Homo sapiens: one gene and its partners. The protein of the gene in region 4 purifies or fractionates together with the protein of the main gene of each other region. This does not show direct contact. Each region holds a gene or a part of one and is shown on either strand. Other genes may lie near its edges.

Region 1 (4,001 bases), on a different chromosome or scaffold from region 4:
ATCCTCCCACCTCAGCCTACTGAGTAGCTGGGATTATAGGGACGAGCCCTACAAGTCATTTTTCATAGGCACTCACACTGATCATGGAATCTAATTTAAGGACACTGTTCAAGTATAAAAGAGACACTGAAACCAAGCTCAAAAAAGGTTACCTGTTGATATCCAAAGATGAAGCCTGAACTTGGTTCTTCAGCCACAGAGCAGACAAATGTAGGAAGGTACTCTCTTTATATGAACTGTCAGTTTGATGAACCAATAAATTTACACCAGAGAGCCAAGTATTTTTCAGTTTACAGATAAGAAAATCTAAAATCAAGATGTCAACAGGAATTTGTAATCTCACTGAATTAACTCTCATCAGCACAAAATGTTTGAAACAACTCTACAGATCTGAGATTTTTTTAAATACCATTTAAAAAAGAAAAATTTTAAATTGCCATTCAAAATTCAATTGCCAAACAAAGCAACTGTGTCATAAACATGCAATCATACAAGCTAGCACGTATCATATAAATGTAAAATGGTAAGATTTTTAAAGTTACATTTTTTATGCTTGAACTTATTTACAAGAGTTGTCCTTTTGGAGACATTTTTAAAAAAATTATTACACCATTTCCAAATACAGAAGTTAGTATTTAAGAAAGGGTTGGTAGCCAATGATGGGCAGAAAAAAAAGAGAGAGAGAAAGAGGAAGGAAGAAGGAAAGAAAAAAAGAAAGGAAAGAATGAAGGGTGGGAGGAGGAGAGCTCTCTATAGATAGTATTTTTTTATGTTCCTTTCACAAATAAGTCTGAATTAGCATATAAGGCAAGAATATAGTCCTTAAAAAGATAATTTCAATTCTATTTTGATATACACCAAAGATTGAATGTTTTTACTATAATAAAGGGATATTATTATCCCCCTTTTACAAATGAGGAAACTAAGACATCAAGAAATTAAGGAACATGCCAGAACTACTGAATGGACTAAGATTCCACCTAATCAATTATGGCTCATTCCAAATTTCTTTGAATATCAAGTGAGATCTTTAGAAATAACATCTACGTACATCTTTAACTTGCTTTCTAGAGCTGAAAGTGTTTAAGACTGTAGCCCTTTACTCAAAATGCTTTAAACTTTCAAACACATTATAATTCAATTAATAAAGCCTGGGCACTTACACTCACTATGAAGGTCAGAGCCGGAGATTCCCAACAAAACATTTGAGCAGTAGGCTATTACCTGGCAAATGTGTTTTTTCTTTGCTCTGAGCACATAACTGAAAGAGAGTTAATAATAAATCTTCAGATGATGGCATTAGCAAGCATCCTTTCGCTGAGCTGAAATAGTTATAGGCCACATCACAGATAAAAGACACTGATGAGTCACTGCTTTCAGCTTCTGATAATTTCTTTGTTTTGAATAAAGTTTCATGAAGTCTAACAATGATTCTTTCAACATATACGTCTCCAATCAAGTAATCTGGAGAAAAAAAGGTTCAAACAGACAAAAAATAAAAATATTAACGTGTATTTTTAAATATCTTACTTTGGATTAATAATTCTATGGGTCTTTCCTGGATTTTAAAATGTATTAGACAAAATTTTATCAACAAATCAACACATTCTCTCACACATAAAGGCCCTCAAGTAAAAAAGGCAGTTTTAAATTAAGTAGAAAACAGAAATGGTCTACAGTTAGGGTGAGCAAGTTTGTACACTGAAAACCCTTTAAGTCATGAGTCAACTTTATGAGCTAAAAAAAAAAAACCCTTTAGGATATAGAACTAAAAATATTAAATATCTTCTAAGTCATGGTATGAAGATTAATAAACAATTAGGGTGCTTACAATATTACGATATGTAAATGAGCTGGGCGCAGCGGCTCACGCCTGTAATCCCAGCACTTTGGGAGGCTGAGGCAGACAGATCACCTGAGGTGAGGAGTTCGAGACCAGCCTGGCCAACACAGCGAAACCCCGTCTCTACTAAAAATATAAAATTTAGCCAGGCATGGTGGCATGCACCTGTAGTCCCAACTACTTGGGAAGCTGAGGCACAAGAATCACTTGAACTCAGATGTTGTAAGCCAAGATCACACCACTGCACTCCAGCCTAGACGACAGAGGGAGACTCAGTCTCAAAAAAAAAAAGAAAAAAGAAAAGAAAAGAAAAAAAAAAATTTGAATGAGTAAGTCCTGTTATTTTTAACCAATAACACATAAGCTGAGCCCCATGCAATCCCCCACAAAGGAGAAATGGACTATTCCCCATTAGAAAACAAAAGCCATATTTGTCCTACCATTTTTAACATGTTGGGATAATACCAAGCTTAGAAGAGTCCATCTTTCTGAGAAGTGAGATTCTGAAGATACCCTGGATTCCAAGTCCTCATTACAAAGACAATCTGCCAAGTTGACCAATTTCTCACCAAGGATATCGCCTTTGAGCCAAGGAGTTACTAAAGCATGTTTATCTGAACTAGGACATGCCTAAAACCATAAAATTAAAGCAAAGATTAACAGCAAGATCAAATACTCTCTCTGTCCAAAATATTACTTGTACCATATTACTATCCCTTCGTTATCATGGCTCCAATTCTATCCCCCCTCCTCCTCCTCCTGAAGTTCTAGGAAGACTGGTATCCTCCCTGTTCCCCATTAAGCCTGTATGATGTTCACTTCCACGCTTTGCTGTTACCTTCCCAGCCATAAATATTCCCCCACCCCCCCCTTTTTTTTTTAACTTAAAATCCCATCCATTCTTTGAAAATCAGTACAAATCCCACCTACTTTATGGAGTCTCCCCATCCACTCCAGCCCACAATGATCACTGCTTTTCTCTGAATTTCTAAAGCACTTACTGGATTGTATAATTATTTAAATGTTTCATCTGTGTATATCTTGTCTTTCCAATGAGATTGTAAGTTCCTTGAGAGTAGAGACTGTCTTAAACTTCTTTGATACCTGCTATCAACACTGTAGATATGTTCAATGAATAATGAATAAACTTTGAAGATAGATTTATAAATGCTCTATAAATTTTTGTTCATTAATTTTGCTAAAATTAAAGAACAATTAGTGTATAATAATGGTAAATTACTTCAATATGAACAATGGGATTTATTTCCCCAAATTCTCTGATATAGAGTTACTAGGGCCAGATATCTGACAGCAACTTATTTTCATGAGGTGGGGAAGCAAGAAAAAAAAAAGCTGTAAATCCACCCCTAAAGCATGCTGATCCATGTTCCCAGAGCTTCTTTTGCTTTAAGGGCTGAGAAGTAAGGAATTTGCAACTTGGTTCATTTCAAAGCAATCTGGAAGAAAAAAAAAAATCCAAGTGCAGATTGGGTAGTGCTTGGAAAACTTTATCCTTTTATTTAAAAATTGTAGGTAACCAGAGCTTATATTTTAGTCCAAGCTTTATCACTAACTAGCCTATGACCTTGGACAAATCTTTTAATCAGCGTGGGCCTATCTCCTAATTTGAAAGTTGGAAAGATTAACTTAGAAAATCTCTAAGGTCCTTTTCTGGTTCCAAAACTCAAATCTGTTTTTTAATTGATGGTTTTTTTAAAAGATGACTTTAAGACCAGCCTGACCAACCAACACGGTGAAACCTTGTCTCTACTAAAAATTCAAATATTAGCTGGGCATAGTGGCAGGTGCCTATAATCCCAGCTACTCGGGAGGCTGAGGCAGGAGAATCACTTGAACCCGGGAGGCAGAAGTTGCAGTGAGACGAGATGTTGCAACTGCACTCCAGCCTGCTGGGCAACACAGTGAGCCTCTGTCTCAAAAAAAAAAGATGATTTTAAGACTCTGCTCATAAAGTATTAAGGTTCCATAAAACAAGAAAAACTACTTTAGAGTTTAGATGGCTGTGATACCTGTTTTCCCAGTGTAGTTTGCCAAGTAAAACCAATCTATTCTGCAGAATCCTGGTAAACAAAATAAACTTCTGAATAAAATGCCTCTCGAGTTAGCAAGATAAGAAATTCAACATAATGTACAGGCA
Region 2 (4,705 bases), on a different chromosome or scaffold from region 4:
CTGTTTAAAATATGTAGCTTAATGCTTAATAATTGACGGAGCATTAACAACCTTAATTAGCCAAAGATGAATTAATTTACCTCCTTTCTGGTCCCAGTATCCTACAGCTTAAGAACCACAGACTGGTAACAGACAAACCAGAGTTTGAGTCTCTACCCCTTGCTATGTAAATTTGTGTAGATTACTTAGCATCTACATGTTGGAGTTTCCTTAGCCTGTAAAATGAAAACGAAAGTAACACGCCAGGTGCAGTGGCTCACGCCTGTAATCCAAGCACTTTGGGAGGCCGAGGCAGGTGGATCACGAGGTCAGGAGTTCGAGACCAGCCTGGCCAACATGGTGAAACCCTGTCTCTATTAAAAATACAAAATTAGCTGGGTGTGGTGGTACATACCTGTAGTCCCAGCTACTCGGGAGGCTGAGGCAGGAGAATCGCTTGAACCCGGGAGGCGGAGGTGGCAGTGAGCCAAGATCGTGCCACTGCACTCCAGCCTGGGCAACAGAGTGAGACTTGGTCAAAAAAAAAAGAAGATGAAAGTAATAATACCTACCTCACAGAGTTACTGGAGATAAAAAGTAATATATGTAAAGGGCTTGGCACAGCGCCTCCAACATAGTATGTACTCAATAAATGGTAGCTATTAATAATTTGGAATATAGCTTTCATATTAAGAAATAATACAATAACTACTCTACACATCTTTGGTACAAATTTCTGAATACTTAAGTGGAAATTTCCAAAAAGTCATTTCCTTTTTTTTTTTTTGAGATGAAGTCTCACTCTGTCGCCCAGACTGGAGTGCAGCAGCACGATCTCGGCTCACTCCAACCTCTGCCTCCTGGTTCAAGCGATTCTCCTGTCTTCGCCTCCAGAGTAGCTGAGATTAAAGGTGCCAGCCATCACGCCCGGCTAATTTTTATATTTTTAGTAGAGATGGGGCTTCACCGTGTTGGCCAGCCTGGTCTTGGGCTCCTAATCTTTAGTGATCCGCCCACCTCGGCCTCCCAAAGTGCTGGGATTACAGGAATGAGCCACCGCACCCGGCTGTAATTTCCTGTTTTTAATAACATGACACTTTTTTCAATACTACTCTCCTCTGAAAAGATAAAAAGCATTTAGACAAATTATTTATACAACATATGACAGATGGGGTAGAGTGGAAAGACACACAGCTTTAGAGCCAGACAGAACTGAGTTCAAGACCTAATTCAGCCATTTAGTAATCGTGTAACCCGGGCCACTTACAGTTTCTCAACCTTGTAAAGCAAAGCTGTTGCAAGAATTAATAAAATATGTAAAGTATGTAAAGCATCAAGCCCAATATCTAGCACTCAATAAACGGTACTTACTACTATTCTTCTCACCTACTCCTTATAGGGGATAAAAGCAGCTTTGCCAGGGAAGAGGGAAGATATTGGAAAACACAAATACTAGTTTATATTAAGCCAGTGACGAAGGACACTGATTTTACCTGATCAGTGTAAGAACTACAGCCGTGTTTTGGGTGGCATACTCCTTCCAGAATCCAATGAAAACGGAGCCCCTAGCTCCTAGGAAAATTTCAGGAATTTTACAAAACGCTCTATGTCAGGGATTTTTAAGAATCTTTTATTAAGGGGAATACTAGCTAGTTACTTCTGCTTAATTTGCAAAAGTGTGAAAACCTTCACTAGTCTGTTTTGTGACAAAACGTACATTAAGTTAATATTCATAATGAAGCAAGTAAATCCTGCTTTTATTAGACTTCTCGATTTCTAAAGAAACAAAAATATCTGGTGTAAAATATTAGAACTACAAACTACGCTAGAATTAGTTCGAATATTCTCAAATGTGATGCTCAAACACCCTAACACCAAACCAAAAGGAAAAAAGTCCAAAAAGGTAACAAAGCTGGCTGTATCCAATTCTTAGAAAGTCTGAATCAATCCAGGTATCAAATGAACCTCTAACTTCCCAAAACATCTACAAACACCGAAGTCATAATTTGCAAAAACAAAGCTGAGCCAGCAAATAGAAACACTGTTTACTAACTGAACGTAGTTTATCCTTACTTCTCCTCCTTGCATGTAATACTTTTATCCTTTGACTCGGCCTTCTCAAATTCCCTTAGTAAACAATCTCATCAAACTGCTTATTGTAGTGTAAGCATGAAGTCAAAGAGTAGCATAGACTCAGTTCTCCAAATCGCGGGAGCTTTAAGGAGCTTAGCACTAGACCAAGTTTTGCCCCAATGACCTTGGTCTCAACGATTCCCCTCCCTCCCTCCAGCCGGCCCGGCCCTTCCACGTGCTGCCGGCTGCAATTACTCCAGAGGTGGCTGCATGTCAGGGAAGCGCTAGAGGATGCGAATGCACAGGAAACAAGGGTTGCTAACAGCACCCAGGCTGTGCCATCCAATCCCTCCCGACACCAACTCCCCAAGAGCGCTCACACAGCCCTACAAATTTCCCCTACCGAAGCCCTGCGGGGATAACCCCAACTCCTTCCCGGCGCCTTGCTCTGCGACCCAGTCTGTGGGGCAGGGTGTAAGGTGAAGAAATTCTCTTTGCTACACCACTATATTCCCACGCCCGACTGGGGTGCTGGGCAGCCAGGGGAAGGGGACAGCTCCTGGAAGGAGGGGACGACGGCAGGAGGAAAGTAGGCTGAAGAATCCTGCGCCACGCCACCGCCACCTCCTCCTCCACTTCCAGGCTCCCTGCAGGCCCTTGCCAGTCGCCAGCCCAGCGAGCAGCAAGGCCTGGAGTGGCAGGGCCGACCGGGGGCCCGCGAATCCCGGGGTCTGAGGGGCGCGGCGTCCTCACCATCAGAACTTTAGCCGCGTTCTCCAGCTGAGCGATCACTTCTGGGGGCCCCAGCGCCGCCGCCATCATGGTCTCTCTTCAATGACGCGCCATGCGCTGCATTCTGGGAGCGGGCGCCGCGGCCGGCCAATCGCCGCCGCGACCCCGGAGCCTCACGCGCTCCCAGGGCCGTCGCAGCCGCTGTCGACACCGGCGTCGCGGCCTCGGCGGGTCTGGCCGGGCTGCCGGGTTCCGGGTGGCTGGGAGGGGACTAGTGTGAGCCCGGCCGCCGCGCTGGGGCGGGGGCGGCCGCAGCCGGCACCGGGCGAGGCCGAGGCGGTCTGCCCAGACTGCTGCAGCCGCGCGCCCCGCTAAGCTCCCAGCCCCGCGCATGCGTGGTGTCCGGCGCCCCGGCCTCGCGGTGCCCCCGGCCCTCTCCCCACTACCCTAGTACAGCCCGCCCGGGGACCCGCAGATCCACGACGCCAGTTCGCTCCCTCCGTTCTCAGCCCTGCACACCGCCTCCCCTGGCTCCTCCTTGCCCTTCCACGCTCCAGCGCCGTGCAGGATTTCCTAAACTTGGAATCGCTCTTCCCGCTTTCCCCTCCTCAGAGCGCACCTCCTTTCAAAGTATCTCTGTCTCCTGCTTCTCTGTTCCTTCTTGCCATGGGAGAACATTCCAGGATAGAACGCTTCGTTTTCTTTCTTTCTTTTTTTTTTTTTTTGGAGACAGGGTCTCACTCTATCGCCCAGGATGGAGTGCAATGGCCCTATTTCGGCTCACTGCAACCTCCGTCTCCCGGGTTCAAGCGATTCCCCTGCCTCAGCCTCCTGAGTATCTGGGATTACAGGCGCCCGCCACCACGCCCGGCTAATTTTTGTACTTTTAGTAGAGACGAAGTTTCACCATGTTGGCCAGGCTGGTCTCGAACTCCTGACCTCAGGTGATCCGCCCGCCTCGGTCTCCCAAAGTTCTGGGATTACAGGCGTGAGCCACCGCCCCCGGCCGAACGCTTCGTTTTCATAATGGAGGGCTTTGGCCTTCTGCAGGACAATCATCCAAATGTATCTGGGCAGCGGGTCGCTAGGAGACCCTAGGAGGAAAACCCGTCTTTGGCTCTTGCCGTTTTCACTCTTTAAGGGCTGGCTCACATAGGAGAGGGAGAAAGCAGGGACAGGAAAGCCTGACCTTGACTACCTGGCTTCTCAAATGCAGTAAGATGAGCTTTGTCGGCCAGGCGCTGTGGCTCATGCCTGTAATCCCAGCACTTTGGGAGGCCAAGGCAGGCCTCATTTTAGCTCAGGAGTTCGAGACCAGCCTGGGCAACATCGTGAGACCCTGTCTCTACCAAAAAAAAAAAAAAAAAAAGCCCGGTGTGGTGTCTTGCGCCTGTGGTCCGAGCTTCTCGGGAGGCTGAAGCGGAAGGATTGCCCAGGAGGTCGAGAGTGCAGTGGGGCGAGATCACACCACGGCACTCCAGCCTGGGTGAGAGGCTGATCCTGTCTCAGGAAAAAAAAAAAAAAGGACAAAAATCAGCATTGTCGTGTTTGTGGAATCCGTGTTGAAAGGCATATTAGAGTATCAAGTAATTAACCTTCCCTCCGGTGCTCCAGTTGCCTCTAGGACATTCCACGCAAGTGGTCCTGACAGCTGTTTCAGTATTCAAACCAGTGCTGTTAGGTTGTTCGGATCAGGGGTTTGTTTCGTTTTGAGCTGACATCTACGGTCTACATTCCTATAACTTCTTTTTGGTGCTTATTCAGCCTTCTGAAACAACACAGACAGTCAAATTCGTTTCAGTATTTTTAAGTTTATTTTTTGTTGAAATCTTCCTGTTTCTTATTCCTAGTTATAAGAAAGCCATACTGTTGAGGTTTTATGTCACTGCAACAGAATGTCTGTGTGTGTGTGTGTGTGTGT
Region 3 (4,001 bases), on a different chromosome or scaffold from region 4:
TTAGCATTGGCAATGCCACTCGGGAGCTTGTTCAGGATGTGGAATCTCAGGCCTTACCCTACCCTAGATCTACTGAGCCAGGATCTGTAGCGCCACAAGGTCCCCAGGTGATTCCAATGCACAGGAAAGTGTAAAAACAGCGGCACTAGACGCCCTCGTTCTTGGCCTTAGTTGCCATCACCTGGGCCTCTAAAAAATGCCTACCTGGGCACTGCCCTCAGAGAGTCTCAGTTAATTGGTTTCAGATGTGGCCTGGAGGGGGTTGGGGGAGGGCTTTTAAAATTCCCCAGGTGATTCTAACATGCAGTCGAGGCTGACAACCTCTGCCCTACCTGAGTGGTTCTCAGACATTGGTGTGCATCAGAATGCAGATTCCAGGGTGCTATAGTCTCATCCTCTGCCCCAGCTCCCTTCCTGCTCCATCCCCTGAATCTGAATCCCTGGGCAGGGAATACAGGGTTTCAACAAGAGCTTCAGGTGACTGCAATGCACAATGGTTTTCTTTTTTCTTGATTTTTATTGAGATGAGGTCTCGCTCTGTTGCCCAGGCTGGAATACAGTGGCGTGATCATAGCCCACTGCAGCCTCAAACTCCTGGGCTCAAGCGATCCTCCTACACAGATGAGATTACATATTCAAGCCACCATGCTTGGCTAATTTCTTTTTTCAGTGTCTCGCTATGTTGCCCAGGCTGGTCTTGAACTGCTGGCCTCAAGTGATCCTCTTGCCTCAGCCTCCAGAATAGCTAGGACTACAGGCATGTGCACCATGGTTTTCAAACCTTGGTTCTCTCAACTTCCTTCTCCACAGCTCCTCTATCTACGTAATCATGGAGTCCTCCATCCTACCTCCTATAGCACTGGTTCCCACTAGGAGTAATACCACCTTGGCAATTTATGGGGGTCCTTGGTCATCAAAACTATTGAGTTAGTACTTCTGGCCTTTAAGGGGTTGAGAAGCAGGAACGGCAGAAAGACAATAATGTAAAACAAAGCACTGTCCATGCCCCGCAAGAGGTTCTAACATCCCAATGGGCATTTGTATAGGCAAAAGGCCTTTCTATAATTATCTGAGTCTAAAATTTCATTTTATACATAGACACAAAATACTTTTTTACATTGTTTTAATATACCACATTTTAGATTTTCTAAGAATGCAATTTTCAGGTAAATTGAAGGAAAATTCTACTTTGTTTTCTGGGAAACTTTATTGGGAGATGGTCACTCACTTTAGAAAATCCTGGCTGGGTGTGGTGGCTCATGCCTGTAATCCCAGCACTTTGGGAGGCCTAGGCAGGCAGATCACTTGAGGTCAGGAGTTCAAGACCAGCCTGGCCAACATGGTAAAACCCCGACTCTACTAAAAATACAAAAATTAGCCGGGTGTGGTGGTGCATGCCTGTAATGTCAGCTACTGAGGAGGCTGAGACATGGGAATCGCTTGAACCTGGGAGGGGGAGGTCACAGTGAGCTGAGATTGCACCACTGTACTCCAGCCTGAGTGACAAAGTGAGACTCTGTTTCAAAAAAAAAAAAAAGAAGAAAAAAAAAAGAAAATCTTGCCACTAAGAGCAATGGCCTCCAATTCTGAAACCTGAGTCCCCAACACCCCCTGTCTGTATCTGTACTCATGATGAGTTCACGTGTAGATGCAGGCTTCTCGTGACTTCATCACTTCTACCATCACAGTGCCCAAGCACGCATACATGGAAACACACATTACTATAAACTACATTCCTTCTAGTTTGCCTTTATGGTTATGGTTAGGGCATTATGTGTAGAGGTAGGTTTTATAATGTATGAATTTCATTTCCTAATAGGAAACGGTATTACAAACTATTTGTTATAAAAAGGTATTGGTTCTGCTGGTGTGAAACCCATCCTAAGTCTACTCCATGACCAGAAAGACATTCCCAGCTCATAAACTTGTCCATGTCACCTTCCTACATAAAACCCTTTACTGAATTCTCTCTGCTCTTGGGATCACATTGCAAATTCATTAACATGCCCCAGAAGAATGCCTGGACCCAGCTCACAGACAGTGGTTTGAGAGACAGTGCCCAATTCTCTCACCCTGTTGTCCCTTGATCCCTGGCATTCTATTTAAAATTACCCAGGTGATGCTAACCTGCAGTCAAGCTTGACAACCTCTGCCCTACACTAGTGGTTCTCAGGTGTGGGTGTGAGAATGACCCTACCACACAAGCATCCCCACGTGCTCTGCACATACCCTTGTCTTGTCTTTTTCTACTCGAGATAACTGGCCAACGTCTCAGGATCACAGCCTCACAGTGATCTAAGGCTGGGGCTTTTAGGACCTCTCCCAGTCCCATGTGCCCTAAGCCTTTTTTGTTTGTTTGTTTTTGAGATGGAATTTTTGCTCTTGTTGCCCAGGCTGGAGTGCAATGGCGCAATCTTGGCTCACTGCAATCTCTGCCTCCTGGGTTCAAGCGATTCTCCTGCCTCAGCCTCCCAAGTAGCTGTGATTACAGGCACGCACCACCATGCCCGGCAACTTTTTTTTTTTAATTATTATTTAGTAGAGACAGGGTTTCACCATGTTGGTCAGGCTGGTCTCAAACTCCTGACCTCAGGTGATCCACCTGCCTTGGCCTCTCAAAGTGCTGGGATTACAGGCATGAGCCACCGCACCCAGCCTTTAAGCCTTTACCACCTTGATGTGTGTCAGCTTGACCTTCCCAGCATTTACATCTGTCTGAGGGCTTTCTCTGGCTGGAGGTGGCAGGCAGTGGACAACCCTCCATCCTACCCCAGAAGCAGCCCTTAACCAATGACTACCAGGGAGCTGGTGGATTAATACCCCAGCTCCCTTACCCTTTGAGTGGGAAAAGTCCAAGGGACATGTCCTATACTGTGTCCCAGAGGTCCCCATGGGGTTAAGCTCATCAGGCCCACTGTGGTCACTTGCTTCGTACCATACCCTTGATTGGTCCTCTTCCCTTTCCTGCCTCACTTCCCTACTCCTCTACCATGTTTCCTGGGAGCGCCTCCCAAATAAACTTAGATTTGAATCCTTGTCTCAGCATCTTCTGGGAAAACTCAGACTAAGGTACCATTCAACGAGAGCTGCTCAGCAGGTCTCCTCTGCGAGGCTGTACCCCAAAGGGACAGCGGTCCCCAGGATGCTCCCACACAAGGTAGGGCCCCCTCTCCTGCTCCACCGAGGCTGACACTCACCACTTGACAGCCAGGTTCTGCACCTCACCGTTCTTGTCCTCCAGGAGCCGGAGCAGCATCTTCACCACCTTGCGCTCGCTGTCCTCGTCCAGCTGGATGGAGTCCTTCTGCAACTCCGACATCAGGTCGCTGGTGGCCATGAACCTGCACAGGGAGGGTGGAGGAGATTGCTGAGCAGCTCCTGGGCCCTGGTGGATTTGGGCAGTACCTCAGGGTTCCCCTAGAAGTAGACCTTAATACAAAGATTCGAGGTCAAATGCAGTCCTGTGTCACATAATGATGTTTTGGTAAGTGACAGGCAACATATACAATGGTTGTCCCATAAGATTATAATGGAGCTGGCCGGGCGCAATGGCTCACGCCTGTAATCCCAGCACTTTGGGAGGCCGAGGTGGGCAGATCACGAGGTCAGGAGATCAAGACCATCCTGGCTAACATGGTGAAACCCAGTCTCTACTAAACAAAATACAAAAAATTAGCCAGGTGTGGTGGCGGGCGCCTGTAGTCCCAGCTACTTGGGAGGCTGAAGCAGGAGAATGGCGTGAACCCGGGAGGCGGAGCTTGCAGTGAGCCAAGATCATGCCACTGTACTCCAGCCTGGGCGACAGAGAGAGACTCCGTCTCCAAAAAAAAAAAAAAAAAAGATTTTAATGGAGCTGCCCTATACAGGCATGCCATTTTAATCTTTTCTACCTTATTTTTACTGTACCTTTTCTATGTTTAGACACACAAATACCACTCTGTTACAACTGCCTACAGTACTCAATACAGGTTTGTAGCCTAGGAGCAACAGGCCACACCATA
Region 4 (4,001 bases):
TGAACCCGGGAGGCAAAGGTTGCAGTGAGCCAAGATCACGCCACTGCACTCCAGCCTGGGCGACAGAGCAAGACTCTGTCTTTAAAAAAAAAAAAAAAAAGAAGAATGGGATGACCAAATGACCAGTGTGACTGAGTTCAGCAGTGGGTGAGGATCATTAACCCCTCAGATGAAAGAAATTATTGGAGCAGTCACTGTTTACTCGACAGATGTTAATTGAGCACTAAAAGGAAGGATCAAAAACACCAAAGAGTAATGCATGTGATCTGAAAATGAAAATTGTTGGCCAGACATGGTGGCTCACGCCTGTAATCCCAGCACTTTGGGAGGCCAAGACAGGTTGATCACTTGAGGTGAGGAGTTAGAGACCAGTTTGGCCAACATGGCAAAACCCATCTCTACTAAAATTACAAAAATTAGCCGGGCATGGTGGCACGCACCTATAATTCTAGCTACTTGGGAGGCTGAGGCACAAGAATTGCTTGAACCCGGGAGGTGGAGCTTGCAGTGAGCCAAGATCATGCTACTGCACTCCAGCCTGGGTAACGGAATGAGATTTTATCTCAAAAGAAAAAAAGATATGAAAATTGTCGCCGTTGTGGTGGTTCACTCCTGTAATCCGAGCACTTTGGGAGGCTAAGGTGGGAAGATCGCTTGAGCCCAGGAGTTCAAAACCAGCCTGGTCAACATAATGAGACCCTGTGTCTACAAAAGAAAAAAAGGTTAGCTGGGTATGGTGGCACATGCCTGTAGTCCCAGCTACTCAGGAGGCTGAAGCCAGAAGGATCACTTGAGCCCAGGAGTTCAAGGCTGCAATGAGCCATTATTGCATCACTGTGCTCCAGCCTGAGTGACAGCATAAGACTCTGTCTCAAAAAAACAAAAAAAGAGAAAATTGGCTGGGCACAGTGGCTCACTCCTGTAATCCCAGCACTTTGGAAGGCCAAGGCAGACAGATCACTTGAGGCCAGGAATTCAAGACCAGCTGGGCAACGTAGCAAAATCTTGTCGCTACAAGAAATACAAAAATTCAGGTGTACCGGCGTGTACGTGTGGTCCCAGCTACTTGGCAGGCTGAGGTAGGAGGATCGCTTGATCCTCCTGGGAGGCGGAGGCTGCAGTGAGCCAAGAATGTGCCACTGGACTCCAGCCTGGGTGACAGAGTGAGACCCTGTCTCAAAAAAAAAAAAAAAAGAGAAAATTATGTACCAGGAAGTTCAGGACAATAGTTCACTATGTGTTCCAGGCAGAGTAACTTGGGGGATGAGGTGCTAGGGTCTTGACATGGAAATTGGACTATCATTTTTAGTCATAGGACTAAAAATGGATCCAGATGAGCACATGAAGGGAGAGTTGCCCAGATTCAGGGTATGTGGGAAGAGAGAGTGGTTAAAGATACTTGTGAGATTGAAAATATTTGGGAATTGGAGAATGCTTAGTTGAGTGTGGTGATGAATTCAATTTCAAAGGAATAAGGGCCTCTGCCTCCCTTTGAGGCATTTATACTCTTAACACAGTGGTTCTCAAGCTACATGTTACCCTAGTGAGCCATTTAAAAACAAGTTTGCAAGCCTTACCCTCCAAAGATTCAGCTCGTCTGAGGCCTCCAGGTGATTCTATGATGCATTCAGCATTGAAAACTACTGTTGGTGACTCTCGAGTCAGAGCCCAGGCACATGCATTTTAGCAAGCTGCACCAGTGATTCCGACCACCCAGACTTGAGAATTGCTCTTGGTAGAGGTTGGATGAACAATGTTCATTTTGATTTGGGATGAAATTGGGAACTCTCACAAGGCTTTGAAGTGATGCAGCAATTCAGTAATTTTGTTTGTTTTACTAAGTAAATATTGATTGTATGATTATTGACGTTCTTTTACCTTGGTAATTTACCAAAGCTGTATTTTGATCCTTCGGGTGGTTTCACCATCATGTGTAAGTGGTGGAAATACCAGTTCAAAGAAGACCAAAACAACAAAGTGGAGCAAAGATTGGCAAATGGTTTCTGTAAAGGGCTAGATGGTAAATATTTCAGGCTTTGCAGATGTTAGGGTCTCTGCTGTAACTACCGAACTTACTGTAGGGGGAAAGCAGGCACAGCCAATGTGCTAACAAATAGGCAACTCTGATGCAGAGCAAGACTTCTTTCCCCAGCCTGCTCCCACTGTCAGCCCCAGGAGGTGAAGGCCTGTGGGTGGACTCTAAGAGATCCATAAGAACCTTTGGAACTATGGACAATGACAGATCTCTGTGTGTGTGCATGCTTTATTTTCTGGTCCTCGACCTGCCAAAAAGCTGAAACTTGCTACTATCATACTACTGTTAAATTACTTGAGGGGTGGGGTGTTAGATTCTGTGAGGATATAAAACCAGATTGATTTTGGGGCATGGCTGGATTTTGTACTTACTGAAATTGAATTGTGGGTCTTTGTGACATTTATATACTCCTGTTGTTTTAAATAGGAATTTTATGGAGAAAATATAAAAGAGTCTCCTGATTATGAAAGGATCATCAATCTTCGTCATTTTAAGAGGATACTAAGTTTGCTTGAAGGACAAAAGATAGCTTTTGGTGGGGAGACTGATGAGGCCACACGCTACATAGGTAATGGAAATTCTCCTTTTCCTATGGGAAGATGGCAATTTGGCAGTTTTTGCTGACACTACTTATTAACACTAGATAAACTATTAAATATATAGCATTTAATTGTTAAAGTACTAAATCCTGCTTTCTGGTATACTGTACCTGTAGCTTTTGTTATAAACTATTTAAAATGTCTGTGTTTCTGTGTATTGAATGATGCCACCAGCGTTGCTCCAGTTGTTCATATTTACACATAACTCCTTTTTTCCTCCTAACAATCCTGAGAAGCAGAATAGAACTTGATGTAATTATCTGTAGTTTGTGGATGGGAAAACAGCACAAAGAAGGAAATAGCTTGGCCACTATTCCACAATTAACCAGTGACGGTACCATTCCAGAAATAATGTTTTGGTCCATCATGCTTGACCTTATTATTTGTGTACCTTCTTTGTGCTTTTTCTTCTTTGCCTTGAATATGTATTACTTTGAATGTTAAGCACATTTTTCTACAGTAACATATAAGGTGACAGAAAAATTAGACACATTTTGCTGGCAAAGAAGCTGCACCACCTAGCTTTACTTATCCCCTTTATCAGATAAGATGCTATAAGTCACCAAAAAAAAAAAAATCAACTTTAAAAAAAAAAACTTAAAAATGAAATAATAAGCAGAATTGATTCTCTTATAATTAGCAGTCCCGAGGTTCTCCTGAGCTAGATAATTCAGTGGCCCCGTGGTACCATCAAAAAACCCTGATTCTTTGTACTAGGATGCAAAAGAAAACAATCCTTGTGCCTTCTATCTCTCTTGGTGGCAGCCCAGATTGAATTGGGGAATACATCTGTAGAAAAAAGAGAAAACAGACTCTACTTGTTTCACCTCTCTGTTCTCCCATCCTCAGCATGTCCACATTGCCTATTTCTAGGCTAATGAATGGTAAGAGGAAGGGGCTATCCTGATTAGCTTATAGACTAATTAGGACTTTCCCCTGACTTCGAGCTGGGATCATCTTACCTGAGCATGGCTATGCAGAGGAAGTAGACACTCAGCCCAAATTGTTTCTCTGACCTGAGGAAGATGTGGGCAATGGATTTGGAGTGGCAGTTTATATACCCCCTGGAAGTGGTGCTGCAAGAAGCTGTCCCCAGCCACATTGCCAAGATAACCTATTAGAAACTGGGGGTAAAGGAAAAGTGCCAACTTGTTATTGTCAGATGACTTCTCTTTTGGTTGACGAGCCAGTTTCTTACTTACAGCATCTTTTGGAGTACTGCTAGTTGGTGACTTACATTGGCAGCAGATGCTGGGACACTTTGTCTAGCCTCCCCAGCATCTGTTTCACCCTCCTTTCTTGTGCCTCTTCCCCATGGTAGATGGAACAGTGGACTAAGGTTTAGGGAATTTTGACCATTTAAGTCT
Region 5 (4,001 bases), on a different chromosome or scaffold from region 4:
TTGTGCAAAAGTTCATTCTGTCTAAAAGTTGAATTTATCTGTTTTTCTGCCTCATTTTTGCTTTTTAATTAAAACTTTTGCTAAATTAGAGGTGAGAAAATTTATTCTAAAATGTTTGCTGTGGTCACCAGAACTCTTTTAATAAGGTATATCTGACATAGCTCCTTTGCTAGAGGAGAAAAACAAAATACAGTTTCTGTTGCTTTCAGCAGGCCATCATTGGAAGTTTTATAAATGTACTTATCTGCTTGGGCATCTTAGCAAATATTTAAGAATAAATAAGAGCCTGGAGGGCATGAGACATTTTTATCCCAAAAGGAAAACTTTCCTCCTTTTTTTTGTAGTATTTTTACACTTAGAATATTCCTTCTTTACCTTTTCAATAATTTTGCCAGGTACAGACAAGCAAGGAACTCTAATACCTTTTAATTTCTCTGTTCTTTATGATGTCTGGCACATAATTGCTTCATAAAAGTTTGTTGAATTGAATTTTATACAGTCAGTTTAGCACCACCAAGTGGCAAGTCTTTGAATGCTCTTGATATATTTTGCTTCCTATGAACACCTGATTCCCAGCTAAGTGAGGGTATGATTGTTAATTTTTTTTTGAGGCAGGACTAATTTCTTTCTTTTTAGTGAGAATGTCCTCATGTATGTATGTATTTATTTTTAATTAGGTTTTTACTGTTTACAACAATGGACTTTCTATGTAAATTATTTTTTATACAGCTTTTTTTTTTTTTTTTTTTGCCCTGAGACATGGCCTTGGTCCGTGGCCCAGGCTAGAGTGTAGTGTGTGATCTCGGCTTACTGCAGCCTCCGCCTCCTGGGCTCTAGTGATCCTCCCACTTCAGCCTCCTGAGTAGCTGGGACTAAAGGCATGCACCATCACACCCAGCTAGTTTTTGTATTTTTTGTAGAGATGGAGTGTTGCCGTGTTGCTCCGTCTGCTTAGAACTCTTGGCCTCAAGTGATCCGCTCACCTTGGCCTCCTAAAGTTCTGGGATTACAGGTGAGGCACTGTACCTGGCCTATACAGCTATTTTTGAGATACAATTGATATGATAGACCACATGTATTTAGAGTATACAACTTTGACATTTGTGTACACCATGAACCCATGAACACAATTAAGATAATGATGTTTTCACCACCTCTGTTAGTTTTCTCGTGACTCACTGTACCATCACTCCATGTGTCCTCAGGCAACCACTGAGCATTTTTTGGTCACTATAAATTAGTTTTAATTTTCTAGAACTTTATATAAATGGAATTATATAGTATATACTCTGTTTTTGTATGGCTTTCTTTATTCAGGATAATTATTTTGAAATTCATGGTGTTGTATGTATCATTAGTTTTTTTTTTATTTCCAAATAATATCCATTGGGCCAGGCACGGTGGCTCACGCCTGTAATCCCAGCACTTTGAGAGGCTGAGGCGGGTGGATCACGAGGTAAGGAGTTCGAGACCAGCCTGACCAACATAGTGAAACCTTGTCTCTACTAAAAATACAAAAATTAGCTGGGTGTGGTGGTATGTGCCTGTAATTCCAGCTACTCGGGAGGCTGAGGCAGGAGAATTGCTTGAACATGGGAGGCAGAGGTTGCAGTGAGCCGAGATTGTGCCACTGCTCTCCAGCCTGGGTGACAGAGCGAGACTGTCTCGAAAAAAAAACCCCACAAATAATATTCATTGTATGGGTATACCACATTTTGTTTATCTAGTCATGTGTTTGATAGACATTTGGGTTATTTCCACTTTGACTGTTACAAATAAAGCTGCTCTTAGGCCAGGTGCCGTGGCTCACACCTGTAATCCCAGCACTTTGGGAGGCCGAGGTGGGTGGATCACCTGAGGCCAGGAGTTCAAGACCAGCCTGACCAACATGGAGAAACCCTGTCTCTACTAAAAATACAAAACTAGCTGGGCATGGTGGTGCATGCCTGTAATCCCAGCTACTCGGGAGGCTGAGACAGGAGAATCGCTTGAATTCAGGAGGCAGAGGTTGCGGTGAGCCAAGATCTTGCCACTGCACGCCAGCCTGGGCAACAAGAGCGAAACTCTGTCTCGAAAAAATAATAAAACAAACAAATAAATAAAATAAATTAAAGCTGCTCTGAGCATTGGTATATGTGTTTTATGAAAATATGCTTTCATTTTTCTTGATTGGATACCTGGGAATGGGGTGGCTGGATCATATATATTAGTTGTGTGTGTAGCATTTTAACACACTGCCAAATTGTTTTCCAAAGTAGGTGTAGTGTTTTATATTTCCACTGGCAGTGTATGAAAGTTCCAGTTGCTTCATATTTTTGCCCATATTTAATGTCAGTCATTTTAATTTTAGCCATTCTAATAGGTGTGTAATAGTGTTTCATTATGGTTTCAGTTTACATTTCTGTAATGACTAATGGTGTTGAGTATTTTTCCATGTGCTTATTTGCTGTCCTTGTATCTTCTTTGATGAAGTGTCTGTTTAAATCTTCTGCTTATTTTTTTTCAAACTGTGTTTTTTTGTCACTGAGTTTTTAGTGTTCTTTTTATGTCCTGGATTTTATATTCTGGATACAAATCCTTTTAATACAAGTTCATTTGGGTCTTTTTAAAAAAATTATTTATTTTTATTCATCTTATATAAAAGGGGGGCCAAATCTAAGAAAATAATGTTATGTCAAAGTTTGTTTTTTAAAGCATAAACTTTCAGAGTTTGTTTTAAGGTTAATACATAGAGTGCTAGCTTTTTAGTCACCTGAGAATCAGGAAATTCACTTGGACGTAATTCCCTGTGGTAACAAAGAACTATGGCTTCCTATGGGTTTGTCAAGCTCCTAGGCTTCATTCAGCCTGAAATTATACTTTTCTTGTTATGTATAAATTAAATAAAATCTATACAACTGTCTGTTCTTCTGTTGCCTCACATCATGTCTATAAAAACAGCATTTAAAGTTTGCAGGAAATAGAATTTTGGCCTGTTACAAAGCAAACACTTTGTTTCTTTAACTCAGAATTCTGGAAATGCAATCAAGTTCTAGTATTGTGACTGCCAAAATATTTTGTCATCAGATATTAATTTTTTTCAAGTGTCTGACTCCATACAAGAAAATAATAAAAGTATCAGAAGTTAACTGTGATTATAAAAAAAAAAAAAAACAAAAAAAAAACAAAAAACTTCAGTGTCCATAGGGTTGTTCCTCATGGTTTGTTAGGATACTCCTGCCTGATCCAAGTGCATCAGGTCTGAGACTGTTCTTTGTTCCACGCTTCTATCTGCCAGAAGAATCTTTTTAGGTAAGGAGGCTATCATAGGAGGCAATGGAGCTTCTAGCTGTTGTCCAAGGAATGAAAGCAGGCGCCTCCAGCTGAGCCACTTCCCATGAACATAATTCCTGTAATCAGTCAAAACACTCCATGGGCCTCTTCAAGGGAAGATTCCAAACTCATTCCAAAAGCAACTTCCATTACTCCAAAGAGCGAAAGAGAGAAGGTTCTTATGGTCAGCTGTAGATTCAACTTCATTATCACGTTACAGTGGCTGTCCAGATTGATGAAAATAATACTTTGTGAATCATCAGTCAGTACCGTAAGCTCCTAAGCTGCATTGGAGACATCGTCAGCTAGTCGGTAGTAGTTTTCCATCAGCAACTCTATCTCCTCTGCATGGTCAGTCCCAGTACTGCTCTTTTCAAAGACTCGGGGGTCACTCCATTTTGATAGAGCTCTTCTAGCAACTCTTTCTCATCCAGGATCTCCAAAATTGACTCTGAAAATTTTAATATCTGTTTCTAACTCTAATAGACTTTTGCCATTCTGTAGTAAAATGTGGAGTTTGCTTCTGTCTATAGAAGAATGTTTGGGGTCCACCAAAGCTTCCAGCGTCTTGAGGATCAGTGGCTGGAAAAGGCTAAGTTTCCCCTGAAGGGTGTTGATCCAGTATTGCAGGAGTGCTTCTATAGCTCTAAACTCAAAAAATTAAAGGGTTTCTAACAAGTTGACCCTCT
Region 6 (4,001 bases), on a different chromosome or scaffold from region 4:
TCCTTATTCTGTTAGCTTTTTTCTATTTCAAAAAATTTTAATCTTTAAAAACGAAGACGCAAACACACACATTACTCTAGGCCTACACAGAGTCAGGAAGGTCCCGGTGGAATGTCTTTAGAGGCAGTAACACATAGGGAACTGTCATCTCTTATGATAACAGTGCCTTCTGGAATACCTCCTGAAGGACCTGCCTGAAACTGTTTTACAGCTAATTTTTAAATTTTTAAATAAGTGGATGAGTACACTCTAAAGATAAAAAGTATAGGATAGCAAATACATAAACTGGCACATAGTTTATTATCAAGTATTATGTACTGCACATAATTGTATGTGCTTAGCTTTTATACTACTGGCAGTGCGGTAGGTCTGTTTACATCAGCATCACCACAGACAGATGAGTAATGCATTCATTACAACAGCTGTGACATCACTGGGCTACAGGCATTTTTCTGCTCCATTATGTGTAATGTTAGGGGACCATGGTTGTATATGTGGTCTGTCGTTGACCCAAAACGTCTTTTTGGGGCACATGACTGTATATAAATGCATAAAAGATGTGACTGCAGATGACTCCTGTGTTATGCCATCCAAGATTAAGCACCCTAGAATAAAGAGAAATTCCAGAAGTACCTTGATTGGCCACATAGGACCCAAGAATGTGATGTGCCTACTCTTCTGCTCCGCTAGCTAGGCAGATAGGGTACTTGATTGGCAGCACCACCAAAATCACATGGTTGGAATGGAGGAGAAGCAGTTGCCCTCCAGGAAAGGTGGCAGTGGTGCTGGGGTGTTTTAACCTTTGTTTTTTCCGTTGCAGTTCAGCAAGACGCTTCCAGTTACTTCCTGCTCTTAAAAAAAAAAAAAAAAAAAGAATAAATCTCTCATGACTCTATATCCTTCTTGACACCTAACCAAGAGAAATTGAGATGACAGTTAATTGCAAATTAATAAAGAAGGCCATCATCTACTCAGCCTTTACCTAAGTGGAATCCTGTCTTTTGCGCATTTAACTTACAAGAATTTACCTGCATCAGTCAGTTATGTGAAGAAGAAAAGGGAATATATTTCAGCGTACACAAGGCCCTTGTGCTTTTTAGGAGGAGTTCTTTGGAGCTGAAGTGGGTCTGAGAAGAGACATTCTCATGATAGTGGAGACAGTATTATAGAAGCTGGAAGTGATCATTTTTCTCTGTTATTTATTTCACTTATTACCTCACACACATATTGATATAAAACTGATCAATAAAGTTAGAATTTCTACATTATCTAGATATTTGTAGACTTCGTTCATATTATTGTTTTGTATATTGTGATAGGGGATTAGATTTTTCTTTTCTAGGCTGGAGCTGATTGTCTGACAATTCATAGCAGTAACTTAGCACTCACTGTATACAGGAAGGTCTTAGGCACTGTTCCTTCCCCTTACTTTTCTTTTTAACATTTTTTAATCTGTATGTACTTATGATCACTCTCCTCATTTAGACATTCACCAACAACAGAAAGAGAAACAGAGGGTTGGGCTTTTTCGTCGTGGCAGTTCTGGCACTGTGAGCTACAATTACCTAAATGTGCCTTCTTGGAAAGAAATTCCAGGGTCAAGTAAAGCAGCCCATCCCAGTATATAGTAATGTTTCTCTAAATAGGGTCTGTATCTAAATGAATAAGGTGAAAATTGAGTACCCTCAAAGTACCCCAAGAGGGAGTCATATCAGAGACTGACAAGCGGTGGGTCTCTCAGGAAGCCCCATACGGCCAGATCTTGTTTTTCCATGTTGGAACTGCATGGCGTTTGTTATTTTGAGCACAGGTGACGTGAACTGCTTGGGTGTGAGGCATGTGAGAACTGAGACATAGAACAGCAGCTGACCATCTCCTATTCTGTGCCCACTGTGAAGCAAGAAGTTATTGAGTGGAGGTATGCAGAATCATGAATCATGATTCATAGAATCATCTATATGAATCATTTCTTTCTCTCCTTCCCGTTGCTGAAGATAATAGATGAAATCCTGCAAATTGAATGGAAGTATGGTACATTTCCACTGTATTCATCTTGGCCTCTAAGCTGAATTAACGTAAAAGAACATAAAACATCTGAGATTGTGGGATTTGCATCATGTTATAAATGAGCTAAGTGATTTAAAAATATCTCTCCTAGATGCAAAGAATGGAACTTGCACAGATGGAGGCGTTTTGGAGTAGTGTAACTAACCATACTTTGTATTACGTGACCAGAACTGCTATTTGAGATTCTGGAAGCCAGTGATGCAGTCTTGCTTGGGTATTTACCTAGGGAGGGAGGGAGGGAGGGAGGAATGGGTGGATGGGTAGATGGGTGGGTTGATCAGCTGCTGTGTCATATCGGCACGGGGAATAGAATGGTGAACAAGGCAGATCTGGTCTTTGCTCTCTCATGGAACCTGCATTCCAACTGGGGGCAAGGAATGGTGGTTTAGACAATGAGGAAATCATTACAATGTGGTAAGTGTAGTAAAAGAGGAGAACGATGTTATGGGTGCATACTAACAGGAAACAGCCTAGTTGAGCAGGGCAAAAAAAGGCCTTCCTAAGGAAGCAAAGTTTTAGCCGATAGTTGATAAATATGACCTGCAGTGGTTGACAAGCTTGACTACATATAAGTAGTATTCAATTATAACTTGGCTTCTTATGGTATAGATTCCTATATGCTGTGAGTCAAATAATATCCTCTGGAGCTTAACAATTACAAGTAATAACACTGATAGATTTAATTTGCAACACAGATGTTATTCCTGTCTCTTAGTTCCTATGTTAATCAAACATTTTTCGAATGTCTACCTAGCTGTGCAAGCCAGTAAGCCCAGTGATGTGGAATATTCAAAGGAGCATGGCCCCATTTTTATTATATAGCTGGGGAGAAAAGAGTCACATGGTAAATTAACTAATGAATCAGCATGAGGAAAGAGCCAAGCCACTGTTTTAAAAGAAGACATGTTTTCTGAATTCAGAGGATGGTTAGGGAAGGAAGAGGTCATAGGCAGATCCAGTTTGAACGGTGCCCAGAAGGAAGAAAGGAAGTTAGATAAATGTAGAGAAAAAGGAAAGGAAAGGGAAGGTGAATCAGCTTGAGCAGACATGAAGGGAAAGTGGAAGCTATTCATGAAGGACTCTTAGTGCAAAAATAATAAATTCAATTGTAAGGGAAGGAGGCAGAAGGATCAGCTCGTGTGATATCTGGAGTCACAGGCTTAGAATTTGGGATTTTATCCTGGAGGCATTGGGAATCTGTTAAAAATAAGTCCACTTGTGCTGGGCGTGGTGGCTTACACCTGTAATCCCAGCACTTTGGGAGGCTGAGGCGGTCAGATGGCTTGAGCCCAGGAGTTTGAGACCAGCCTGGCCAACATCATCTCTATGAAAAATTCAAAAAATTAGCTGGGCATGGTGGTGTGCGCCTGTAGACCCAGCTACTTGGGAGGCTGAAGTGGGAGGATTGCTTGACCTGGGAGGCAGAGGTTGTAATGAGCCGAGCTTATGCCACTGCACTCCAGCCTGGGTGACAGAGGGGGAACCTGTCTCAAAAAAAAAAAAAAAAAAGTCCATTTGCCAGAAGGTAATAGAAAACTAATAGAAGTTAACCCACCATTGCATTTTATTTTTCCCTTTACAAAGCAAACCACAAAACAAAACAAAGGAATGAAGAGAAATGCTTGGATTGGGAAGGCCAAAAATAAAATTTGCATGTAATGTTGTACTATATCATGATTTTGTGATTGTTTTCTAGCATTATATAGTAAATAAAAACTTGATTCTATTTCATTGTAATGTGAAAAAGTATCTCATATGACACTTTTAGGAGGAAAAGAATGTCAGGATTAAACAGGATCATGGAGCTTGAGAACAGTTAGGAATAAATGTTTCCCAAGGTGAAAACTGGTGAAAAGCCAGGCATGGTGGCACAGGCTGGTAGTTGCAGCTACTTGGGAGACGTGAAGTAGGAGGATCGCTTGAGGCCAGGAGTT
Region 7 (4,001 bases), on a different chromosome or scaffold from region 4:
TAAGAGGCTCAAAGGTTGCATTACCTCCCTGGGCACATCATCCTCCAGGAACTTCCACTTAGTTATCTGGGAGCTCTCCAAACCCAGTCCTAATGGGCTTTTATGGAGGCTTCATTAAACAGGTATAATTAAGTAAATCACTGGCGACTGGTGATTAATAAACCCTCAGCCCCTCTCCCCTTCTGGAGGATGGCGGATGGGGTTCAAAGCCGCAATCTTCTAACCATGCCTTGGTCCTTCTGGTGACTAGATCTATAGATAGTACTATCTACAGTCAGGTCAATGGATATTACTAACAGAATGAAATCCAAAACCCTTTATCCAGCCATCCAATGCCTTTTCCATTTTGGCTACAATCAATGTTTGGTCCAGGTAAACATTGAAAGAGAAGGTCCAGGTAAACAACGAAATCTGAATTAAGGTAACTGAGCACCTTTTCATCATCACTTTCTTTTGCTCTTCTTTTTTTTGATACAGAGTCTCACTCTGTTGCCCAGGTTGGAATGCAGTGGTGCAATCTTGGCTCACTGCAACCTCCACCTCTGGGTTCAAGTGATTCTCCTGCCTCAGCCTCCTGAGTAGCTGGGATTACAGGCGTGTGCCACCACACCGGATTAATTTTTGTATTTTTAGTAGAGACAGGGTTTCACCATGTTGGCCAGGCTGGTCTTGAACCCCCGACCTCAGGTGATCTGCCAGCCTTGGGCTCCCAAAGTGCTGGGATTACAGGTGGGAGCCACTGCACCCAGCCCCTCATTCTTAACTTTAAATTCTTTTCTCTGATCTTGTCAAAATACCAGAAACTAAATGGGGTTTATATTTAGAGTTCTTTTCCAATGCTGAGGACTGACCCTGGGAAACAGTCAACGGTTACTGATCTTTCTTCTTCCTGATTACCAATAACTGATCCATCACATGCCCTGTCAATTCTACCTTCAATAAAGATCACAAAATCCATCCATCTCTGTCCATCTCTATCACCTCAATCCAATCCAACATTATCTTTTGCTTGGACTATGCAGCAATCTCCCAATGAGTTTCCCACTTATTGCTTCTCTTCAATTCCACAGATTGATACTATTAAGTATTTTGGATCATGTCATCACTTTGCATAAACTCTTCAAAAGCTTACTTTAAAAATCCCAACTTGGCTGGATATGGAGGCTCATGCCTGTAATCCCAGCACTTTTGGAGCCCAAAGAGGGAGAATTGTTAAGCGCAGGAGTTTGAAACCAGCCTGGGCATCATAGTGAGACCTCATCTCTACTAAACATTAAAAAAATTAGCCAGGTATGGTGGTATGCGCCTGCAGTCCCAGCTACTCAGAAGGCTGAGGTGGGAGGATCGCACCTAGGAGGTCAAGGCTGCGTGAGACTTAATCATGCCACCGTGCTTTTGGCTGGGAGACAGTCTCATCTCAAAACCACCGCCCTGCCTCCAAAAAAATTCCAAACGAAAAGATAGTGACCAGCCAGAAGCAGCACTCGATGAGGTATTTCTGGATGAATGAATATATGTGGTCAGATCAACAAGACTCAGTCTTGAGCTCTGTTCTTTTCTCAATTTATAGCTATTACCTCAAAGGAGGTTACCTTGTAGCTAAAAATTCATAATTCATCTGATTTTTTTTTTTAAAAGGCTGGAGTGCAGTTGGCTATTCACAGGTGTGATCATCACGAACTATAGCCTCAAACTCCTGGTCTCAAGTGATCCTCCTGCCTCAGCCCCGAAAAGCTGGGACTACTACTGGCATGCTAGGCCTTTTATGATTCTTAAATTAGAATCTCCTGCCGGAAAGTCTCACCCTATCTCTATTCCCAGATGTTCATTTTAAGACCTTTTCATGGGCTGGGTGTGACGACTCATGTCTGTATTCCCAGCACTTTGGAAGGCCAAGATAGGTGGGCTGCTTGAGCTCAGGAGTTCAAGACCAGCCTGAGCAACATGGCATAATCCCATATCTACAAAAAATTAGCCAGGCATGGTGTGCACACCTACAGTCCCAGCTACTCAGGAGGCTGAGGTGGGAGCCTGAGCGCAGGAAGTTAAAGCTGCAGTAAGCCATGATCACGCCACTGCACTCCAGCCTCGGCAACAAAGCAAGACTGTGTCTCAAAAAAAAAAAAAACAAAAAAAACAAAAAAACTCTTTCCATTTATTTTACTGTATGTAACTTCAAAGCCCGGATGGAAAAGAAAAAAAAAGCAAAGCACAAAACAGTATACAGTATGCTACCAGTTATACCAATAAAAGGGAAAAAATACATACAATTGTATGCATATTTGCTTACATATGCATACCTCCAGCAAGATATATAAGAAACTGGTGATGTCAGTGGCCTCTAGCAAGGGAAACTGTACGGACAGAATCTGGCGTGGGAAAGAGACTTCAATAAATACCTTTTGAATTTTTAACTGGGCTAATATATTACACACTAAAAAAAATTTTTTTTAATAAGCCTCAAACCAAAAGATTAATGTAAACCTGCTTAACTTCCCACTTTCTGGAAAGAACCATCACCTTCCTGGCCAGACTCAAAAACACTATCAGTGACCTTTGATTCCTTCTCTTTAATATTTAATCATTTACTAAATTTTCCAGCACTTTCTGGAAAATATACTGGAGCTCTGTTCCTTCAAGTCCATTTACCGTGGTGGAATAGACTTTCATTTTTTGTATCTGAATTATTGCAAAAGGTCTTGCTACTCAAAGATCTTCTGCTCCACCCTATCCCTCCTCCCCAATTTATTATTCATGACATTGCCACACTCATTTCTTTAAACACAGTATCACTTTAGGCCCCTACTCAAGAACCTGTAATGTCCCCTTCTGAACCTGTGTATTATCATATTTGGGATTGGTGGTAGGAGGGGGAGAAACCACTGCTACAAATAGGCTTAATACCTTTTGTAGCAAGTGTATTTCCTTTCCTATCACAGTTCCTTCCACTACCACCACCAAGAATGAAGTTTTTCTTAATGATTCCAGCTTATATTAACCTCTTCCTTAATTTTCTACTGCTCTAAGTCTGTGGAAAATGCAAGTTTACTTTTTATATTTTGTGTTGGCACATACCTGCTGTATAATCTCAGTCAAGAATCTTACCCTTTCTGTACCTTTGTTGCCTCATGTGTGAAATGCTTTCACGGGCTTTCAGTGAAGACTGTGGTAAAACACTGTTATAAGCTATCTTATTATCATTCTTTATCTGTTTCATCTGTTACATCCTGCCTCCAAATAAAACTGCAATGAGGATTTTCTTAAACCCAATTAACACACAATTGTGTTAAATAGGTACACATTCTTATGACTCTGGTTTTTTTTTTTTTTTTGAGAGAGTCTTCCTCTATCGCCCAGGCTGGAGTGCGGTAGCACAGTAACAGCTCACTGAAGCACTGACCTCCTGGGCTCAAGCAATTCTCCCACCTCAGATTCCCAAGCAGCTGGGACTACAGGTGTGTGTCACCATGCCCAGCTAATTTATATTTTTTGCAGTGAGAGTCTCAGTATGTTGCCCAGGCTGGTCTTGAACTCCTGGACTAAAGTGATCCTCCTGCCTCAGCCTCCCAAAGTGTTGAGATTACAAGTGTGAGCCACTGTGCCTAGTATGACTCTTGTTTTTTATTAAGATATGTTGCCCAGGCTGGGGTGCAATGGCTACGCACAGGCACAATCATAGCACCCTACAGCCTCAAACTCCTGGCCTTAAGTGATCCTCCAGCCTCAGCCTCCCAAGGAGCTGGGACCACAAGCACACGCCACCACACCTGGCTTTGACTCTGCTTTTGATTTAGTCAGTATCAGTGGGACTGATTTGAAGTAACTTAAAATTTCTGTCACACCTATCAGGTATGTTATTTCATGTTGTATCATATAATGATTCTCTTCTCTTTCCAACATGTTTAAATGCTTAAGTTTATTGGGTAAGTACATCTTCTTCCATTAACGACTTCAGTACTATGCACAGTAAGGAAGAAAGTGATGTGAATCAATAATGACTT

What was found.
Region 1: the proteins of ALDH3A2 (region 4) and LTN1 purify together in Homo sapiens (affinity purification with mass spectrometry; 3 studies listed by BioGRID and IntAct, with this or other methods). This does not show direct contact.
Region 2: the proteins of ALDH3A2 (region 4) and XPO4 purify together in Homo sapiens (affinity purification with mass spectrometry; 3 studies listed by BioGRID and IntAct, with this or other methods). This does not show direct contact.
Region 3: the proteins of ALDH3A2 (region 4) and CAND2 purify together in Homo sapiens (affinity purification with mass spectrometry; 3 studies listed by BioGRID and IntAct, with this or other methods). This does not show direct contact.
Region 5: the proteins of ALDH3A2 (region 4) and TBC1D15 purify together in Homo sapiens (affinity purification with mass spectrometry; 3 studies listed by BioGRID and IntAct, with this or other methods). This does not show direct contact.
Region 6: the proteins of ALDH3A2 (region 4) and VPS8 purify together in Homo sapiens (affinity purification with mass spectrometry; 3 studies listed by BioGRID and IntAct, with this or other methods). This does not show direct contact.
Region 7: the proteins of ALDH3A2 (region 4) and PPP4R3B purify together in Homo sapiens (affinity purification with mass spectrometry; 3 studies listed by BioGRID and IntAct, with this or other methods). This does not show direct contact.

The regions. Positions count from the first base shown.
Region 1 is NC_000021.9:28,958,234-28,962,234, forward strand, and holds part of LTN1 (E3 ubiquitin-protein ligase listerin), read right to left. Parts: exon of another isoform or gene 2,845-4,001; intron 2,474-2,844; coding exon 2,284-2,473; intron 1,465-2,283; coding exon 1,225-1,464; intron 307-1,224; coding exon 153-306; intron 1-152.
Region 2 is NC_000013.11:20,899,865-20,904,569, forward strand, and holds the start of XPO4 (exportin-4), read right to left. Parts: upstream 2,883-4,705; 5' UTR 2,875-2,882; coding exon 2,806-2,874; intron 1-2,805. UniProt on the Homo sapiens protein: Mediates the nuclear export of proteins (cargos), such as EIF5A, SMAD3 and isoform M2 of PKM (PKM2). In the nucleus binds cooperatively to its cargo and to the GTPase Ran in its active GTP-bound form.
Region 3 is NC_000003.12:12,802,828-12,806,828, reverse strand, and holds part of CAND2 (cullin-associated NEDD8-dissociated protein 2), read right to left. Parts: intron 3,342-4,001; coding exon 3,198-3,341; intron 1-3,197.
Region 4 is NC_000017.11:19,658,666-19,662,666, forward strand, and holds part of ALDH3A2 (aldehyde dehydrogenase family 3 member A2), read left to right. Parts: intron 1-2,461; coding exon 2,462-2,603; intron 2,604-3,334; exon of another isoform or gene 3,335-3,425; intron 3,426-4,001.
Region 5 is NC_000012.12:71,846,026-71,850,026, forward strand, and holds part of TBC1D15 (TBC1 domain family member 15), read left to right. Parts: intron 1-2,266; exon of another isoform or gene 2,267-4,001. UniProt on the Homo sapiens protein: Acts as a GTPase activating protein for RAB7A. Does not act on RAB4, RAB5 or RAB6.
Region 6 is NC_000003.12:184,814,964-184,818,964, forward strand, and holds part of VPS8 (vacuolar protein sorting-associated protein 8 homolog), read left to right. Parts: intron 1-820; exon of another isoform or gene 821-1,918; intron 1,919-2,158; exon of another isoform or gene 2,159-2,481; intron 2,482-4,001. UniProt on the Homo sapiens protein: Plays a role in vesicle-mediated protein trafficking of the endocytic membrane transport pathway.
Region 7 is NC_000002.12:55,607,554-55,611,554, forward strand, and holds part of PPP4R3B (serine/threonine-protein phosphatase 4 regulatory subunit 3B), read right to left. Parts: intron 1-4,001. UniProt on the Homo sapiens protein: Regulatory subunit of serine/threonine-protein phosphatase 4 (PP4). May regulate the activity of PPP4C at centrosomal microtubule organizing centers.